Homo sapiens: one gene and its partner. The protein of the gene in region 1 interacts with the protein of each later gene in a pairwise test. Each region holds a gene or a part of one and is shown on either strand. Other genes may lie near its edges.

Evidence for each region. The genes of interacting proteins can lie anywhere in the genome.
Region 2: the proteins of MEOX2 (region 1) and GPATCH2L interact in binary tests that used the Homo sapiens proteins (3 or more experiments, as listed by UniProt).

Annotation. Positions count from the first base shown.
Region 1 is NC_000007.14:15,676,684-15,680,183, forward strand, and holds part of MEOX2 (homeobox protein MOX-2), read right to left. Parts: exon of another isoform or gene 2,231-3,500; intron 965-2,230; exon of another isoform or gene 780-964; intron 1-779. UniProt on the Homo sapiens protein: Mesodermal transcription factor that plays a key role in somitogenesis and somitogenesis and limb muscle differentiation. Required during limb development for normal appendicular muscle formation and for the normal regulation of myogenic genes.
Region 2 is NC_000014.9:76,158,422-76,161,921, reverse strand, and holds part of GPATCH2L (G patch domain-containing protein 2-like), read right to left. Parts: intron 1-3,500.

The DNA.
Region 1 (3,500 bases):
AACATGGTGAAACCGCGTCTCTACTAAAAATATAAAAATTAGCGGGCGCCTGTAGTCCCAGCTACTCAGGAGGCTGAGGCAGGAGAATCACTTGAACCCGGACAGCAGAGGTTGCAGTGAGTCAAGATTGCGCCACTGCACTCCAGCCTGGGCAACAGAACAAAACTCGGTCTCAAAAAAAAAAAAAGAGTCCTCATTTTATTCTTTATTTTGCTCAATATGCACTCTTCCTGAAAACAGCTTTTCAATGGAGAAGTAGCAGGAGACCCAAGAGAAGAGGAAGTTAGGAGAGGTCCAAGTAAAAGAGGCTGTGGAATGGAAATCTTAAGGGTGGGAAAGGCAACTTGAGCCTCTTACATAACTTGGCTAGAATTCACCTTACATTTCAGGGAAATTTCATGCCGTTTACAATTCTAAGGACAATGATTATTTTAAATCTTTAGTAATTACTTAGGCAAGTTACATTTCCTATAGCAGTATTTGTAATAAAATGCAAACAGGTAGCATAAAATAGATTATTTTCAGATGGTGCATATGCATTACATAATTGTACATTCATTGATAGATGATAAAAATAATAACTGACACTTTACTAAGCCAGACATTGTTCTAATTGCTTTGTGTATATTAACTCAATTTCCTTTTCAGAAACGATGGTAGAGAAAAGTTAAATTTGTGGCCAAGAGGTGACAATAGTAAGAGACACAGCGGGGGTTTAGCCCTAACTATTGTGTTCTCCCAGATATGCTTGCCTCATTTCTTCTTCGGTTGACTCTTAGGGTTGCATCCACCTAACCCTCCGGGGTTCTGGCTTCGGATAGTGTTTGATCAATGGAAGCAACAAAAGAAGATTGGAGGACATGAAGACAGGTTACTGGATGATATTCGACATGAGCTGCAATCCTCCATCTGAGGTCCCAACTTTTCCAGAAGGCTTCTGTCCTGTTGCGCTCATTGGATTCTGGTAAGAGGTCCCTGCATTTACCCTCTCAGGTTAGGGGTGCTAATATATTCCAACTGTGGACAGACCCTGGGGGATTCATCATTTCCTGTGGTTTCCCTACATTCTACTCACCATCAAATTGCCATCATCAAACTCTCTTCAATTATCCCTTTGAGTGTGACATCTATTTCCTTGTCTAATATGATAATTAAGAAATAGGATAAATCTTTTATGATTTATCAACTAATGGCTAAATATGCAAAAGTGTTGCCACTTACTTATACTTTCCTAAACATCTGGGTATTCTAGAAAATAAATTATACAGCTCTACTTCCAGGAGCAAAGAATAGTTCTGGAGGAAAAATTATTTATAATTCCCTGAATTTTGAGTGTGGACATTCACAAGACTGTAATCTTAGAAACATGGGTGGCAGCAAGCCTCCAAATAGGGATGCCTAAACTCTGACTTTCCTGTCATTTTAATATGTCTCAATCATTTTTACATCTACATTCTGTCTAGTTTAATGCATCCAGATCTGTTTATACTTCAAATAAGAAAAAGAAATTCCCACGTAAGCATAGCCTATAGGTGAGAAAATTTTAATTGTTAAAGGCACTACACATACTAAGACCTCATTTTATCTTTGAATAATATTAAATAAGACATCACTTGATTCCAACCTATGCAGTGAGTGCTAAAGCATTATTTATATGGTTCTTTAAATGTGAAAGTTATTTGCTAAATTGCTGTTGTTCTACAAAACCAAGCTAGTCCCCATTACGTTTCGGATAACACATATTTATTTTTCTGAATAGTTTCCTGTTTGTGTTACCTACCAACATAAATCAATGATTTGCAAAATTTGCTTTGCATTCATTGTTAATTTGATAAGAGGCATGCCCATTTAATCTTTTCAACTAATAAGAATACACCTCAGTTTAGTTTGCTAGTTTTTTGGGTGGCTAAGAATAACCATCCAAATGTTTACTGTGCAGTCCAGACAGTGGACAAGCTACCTCAACAGACTCTGAATATATTTCACTACTGCATTTGCAAATAACTATCACTTTGCAAAAATAAGTTTTCATTTGGGTGTCATTTCTGGCAAAAATTTAAGGCTATATTTTCAAAGAGTAAAATTCTAGGCCTTTAAAATTCTACTGGCATCTGCCAACCTAAGCTGGACCCTCCTCTAGGTTTTGCGGAGCCTGACAGATGATTTCACCTTAGTCATTTTCTTGCCCACAGTCACGTAAGATAACTGCGAATTTGTTTTTTCCTTGTAGCATTATGGGATTCTCTTGAAGTGTGTGAAGAATAATGAGCTAAATAAAGAGGAAAAACAAAAGAAAACAAAAACTGCAGGGACTTTTATAACTATCATTGATTGCCAGCTTAAGCCTGCTGGACTCTTCACAAAACTATATATGCTTCAAGCTTAATATTTAATTTTGTAATTGGAACATTTATAATCATATTATGCATTTAATAAGGATGCTCTAATTCAGATTTACTATTATCAGGAAATTAAATTTGGAGTTACAGTAATGCATGCATATATATGTGTGGGTGTGAGTGTGCATATACCTATATATGTATATACATATATAAAGTAAACGCCTTCTTTTAACGTGTGTTTTAAGTATAGCTTCCATGTCCTAGTTAATTCAGCACCCTCCCTTTTATCCTTTCCTTGCCATTGTCCTCTCTACTAGACTACAATAAAAACAAAAAACTATGAAAGTAAGCAGCTTATAATCATAATTTTAATCAATGTAGCCTATGCAAGCTTTAAGAAACATACGTCTAACATCTTAGAAAGAAAGCTTATGAACACAAACAGCAGAATACTTAAATACATTTGAAACATTCACATTGAATTGATTCTACAAAATTTTGAAGAGCAACAGCTTTTGAATTTAGAGCTATAATCAGTACCCTAAAGTTTTTACCACTGAGTTACTACCTAGTAAAAATATGTTATATTTGCAATAAAAGTACACATTGTAAGGACATAAGAATTGTCATCAAGGTACACAAACATTTTAGAATTATTAAACATTTAAATAAATGGAAATTTTAAAAATAAAATAACAATATTATCATACAAGTTAATGATCCAGTTTATTAATTTCTAATTCTATTGATAAAACAAGGGATTATTTTTGAAAGGGTTTTTCTATCTTTCATACAAACCCTTTCCAAAAATGTATAGATACAGTACGGATTCTACCTGATCATTCTTGTGCATATGGTGATGTAAGAAACCAAAAAAATGTAAATTATTTTCATAACACTGTGAAAACCAATATTTAAAAATACAGTGCACAATTAGTAGTGAGTAACATATATAAATTTAGAAATATTATATTTCTGTACACAAAGTAACATTATAAATGAAAGCTTCAGGAATAATGAGCTACTTATTATTCCGGAAATTATATATCAAAAATTTCAAATATAGAGGAAAATTAAAAACCCACTCATGACCCATGAAAATTAATAACCCATTCGATCATACACTTACCATGTAACTTTCTGTTAATTTGGTAATAA
Region 2 (3,500 bases), on another chromosome or scaffold:
TAGGATTACAGGCCTGTGCTACCACGCCTGGCTAATTTTCATATTTTTAGTAGAAACAAGGTTTCACCACATTGGTCAGGCTGGTCTCAAACTCCTGATCTTAGGTGATCCACCCGCCTAGGCCTCCCAAAGTGCTAGGATTACAGGCATGAGCCACCGCACCCGTCCTAGAGCTAGTAAGTTTTAGGGCAATTTTTTCTGCAGCAACAGATAATACAGAATCTTTATAAACTCTTTGTTGAAATTAATTCCCTTCTTCCTAAACAGTAGCTTCTAGTTTCAACAAAATAAACCCCTCTGAATTCCCAAAATTGCCAGGGGGAGCAGGGGGTGGGAAAAAAGCACAGCACACCCTCTGATCTGAGAGCTTGCTAATTCTTTCATACTCCTAACCACAGAAGACTGTAAAGTGAGAACTGAAAGAGTAACTTATACCTGTTCCAATTATAATAAGGAGGTACAGAATTACTTTATCACCTACAATCAAAAGTTGGTATTAATAAATTACCATCTGGGTTTGTTTCTCCCCATTTAAGAGCTTATTAACCAAGTAGCTTAATAAGAGGTGTTTTTTGCATCTAATTAATAGATATCTTAAAGTTTATGGCTTACATCGTCATTCTAAAAAACTTTTCTTAGTAAATAATAATGCACTTAACAAAAATAAAAGTTGTTTCAGAATTTAGAAAAACGTGGAAAAAAGTCACTCTTAGATCTACTGCCCAAAGGTATTTTTGTTCTATCGTTTTCCAGTTTTTTTCCAGGGTAGAGGTGGCACACTGGTAACCCTTTGTAATCAGACTTCTGAATCTAGTAGTAAACAAGACTGAGGGAGAGGTTATTCAGAGAAATATCTCACATCAGTTCTGAAATTATTCCTATAAGTAATGAGAATATATAATAAAAGAATTTCTTTTTCAGTTTCATTCAGACAGTGCCATGAAAGGCAGCAACCTCCGCAGGTTGACAGGTTCGATACTGTGACTAGTACAATCAGGTATACTTTGCAGAGACAGAATTTTCCTCAGGACTCTGCTATTGAGCTGGGGGCTGTGCCTCAGAGAAGTCCACCCATCCTTTCAAGACTTCCCTTTTCTTAGAGCTAACAGTGATTCATCTTCAGGTAGATGGAACGTCTTCTCACAGTAAATTTTTAAAGAACATGGATTCTGGGGCCTGCATATCTAAGAATGTCTGAGCCACTGCACCCAGTCTTCAACCCCTTTTAAGATTTTTCTTTCCTTAGTCTTGAGCATATGTGAAAAAAAGAAAAACTAAAATAAAATATTTTTTTAAAATCTCCGTCTCAGTAGAAGTCTCTTCTCATTAATTTTCGCTTTTAATCTTAAGACTTAATTTTTCAACTCAAGAACACTTTTTTCTCTTCAGTTGTATCTTCTTCTCCAGCACTTTGGTTTCTTCCCTGGGAATATTTACATACTCACAGACTTGGTCTCTTTGTTTAGAGCTACTAAGTTTTAGGGCGATTTTTTTCTGTAGCAATAGAGAATACAGATGGCCTATTGCCAAGATTTCCTCAAACTACAAGGCTGATAGAACCACACTTGACAATGAAATGGAGGCCCACGTTAGAAGTGCTGAGCCTGCCCTGAAGGTAGATAGCAAGCCCCTGCATCCTTTCTCTACAGTCACCTTGCAGTTCAGAAATGCAAGGCCAGTTTCAGTCAGAAAATCAGGCAGCTACAGGTTGAGGCAGGGTGTGGTTCTATCCTTCTCTTCCCATTGAGCATCATTCAGTTTCTTTTTTCTTTTTTTTTGAGACAGAGTCTCGCTCTGTCGCCCAGGCTCGAGTGCACTCAAGTGCAGTGGTGTGATCTCGGCTCACTGCAAGCTCCGCCTCCCGGGTTCACACCATTCTCCCGCCTCAGCCTCCTGAGTAGCTGGGACTACAGGCGTCCACCACCACGCCAAGGCTAATTTTTTTGTATTTTTAGTAGAGTCGGGGTTTCACCATGTTAGCCAGGATGGTCTCGATCTCCTAACCTTGTGATCCACCTGCCTCGGCCTCCCAAAGTGCCGGGATTACAGGCGTGAGCCACCACGCCCGGCCTGAGTATCTTTCAGTTTCTATTTGGTGGCTCTAACTCCCAGAATACACTTGGATAGGGAAGCTTAGTGTTTTCTGTGTGTATTTGTGTTTGAGGGTAGGAAGCAGTTATAGGGTATTGAGTCCTAGAAAGTATAGTCTTCAAGAACAAAGATTCCAGTTGACATGGGCAGAGAAGTGCATTCTGGAGACAGTACATTCTGGAGACTGCAGTGTTTTCTACACCTTCATTTACGGCACACTCCTGGAATGGGGTCAGAATCAAGCAGTGAGGGTTAGATGATCCTATCTCAGTCCAGCATAGCTGTATGAGATAAAAGCCTCCCAGTAGCACTGGGAGCACTGGGCTAGGGGCTCTGCATATTCTCTTGGCCAGCTGTAGATCTGAGAATGGCAGTTACCTATGTCCACGGGAGTAGAGAAGGGGACCAAGGGTAATCTATGCACCCTTGCTGGCAAATACCAAGAGGCCTTTGAACAAATTCTGCGAAATAAGAGAAAAGGGAATATCATTCTAAAAGTTGAGAGAAAGAATGAATCTTTGAAGATGACTGCCAGTGGGAACCACAAGAATTCAAGTGGGCAGTTGAGGCTACTTACCAGTTAAGACATTACAATGGTGGGAAGTAGACTGTGACTGAAAAGAATCGCAGCATCTCAGTGTTACAAGGGATCTCAGAAGCCTTCAGTTCAACCTTCTCAACTCCACAGCAACTAAGTAAGCGGTCATCAAGCCCATGTTTGAATCCCCCCACCTGATCTAGAAGTTATTACGCATTACATGGTGAAACAATTCACTTCATTTTTACAGAGTCCTAATTTTTAGAATCTTATTTTTTAACCGCAGCAACATTTAACACTCTGTACTCTCTATCCCTGAGTTCTGTCCTGTGGAGCCACACAGAACAATCCCAATATTTCTTTTAAGAGGTAGACTCTTTTACGAGATGGATGTTTCTTTCAAGAGATAGACCTTCAAGTACAATAGTATCATATCGACCTCCCAAGCTGTGTGTTTTAGTTGTCCCTAAGGATACTAGCAGAACTGTGAATATACCCACATAAGCACACTATGCTAGCTATTCGAGAATCTCACATGCAATACTACCAACTGCAACAATGGTAAATATATTCTTGGTCAGCATCCCTACTTACAGAATAGAAAACAGAACACCCCCACCTACCATACATATTCTTTTACACAGCTCCAGGAAACCCTGATTAATGACCTCCACTTGCAAAGGAGGCTACTTACCTTAACCATGAAATAATGAATGCTATTGATCCAACAAGCTACTGCTATAGAGTGTTATTGATCACCCAATCTTTGGTTAAAATGGTCCTCATTTAGCAATTTCACTGTCACAAACACCTGGAGCAAAGCACACTCATAATTAAAGAGTTTGGGGGAGTTAAAGTGAGAGGTGATGGA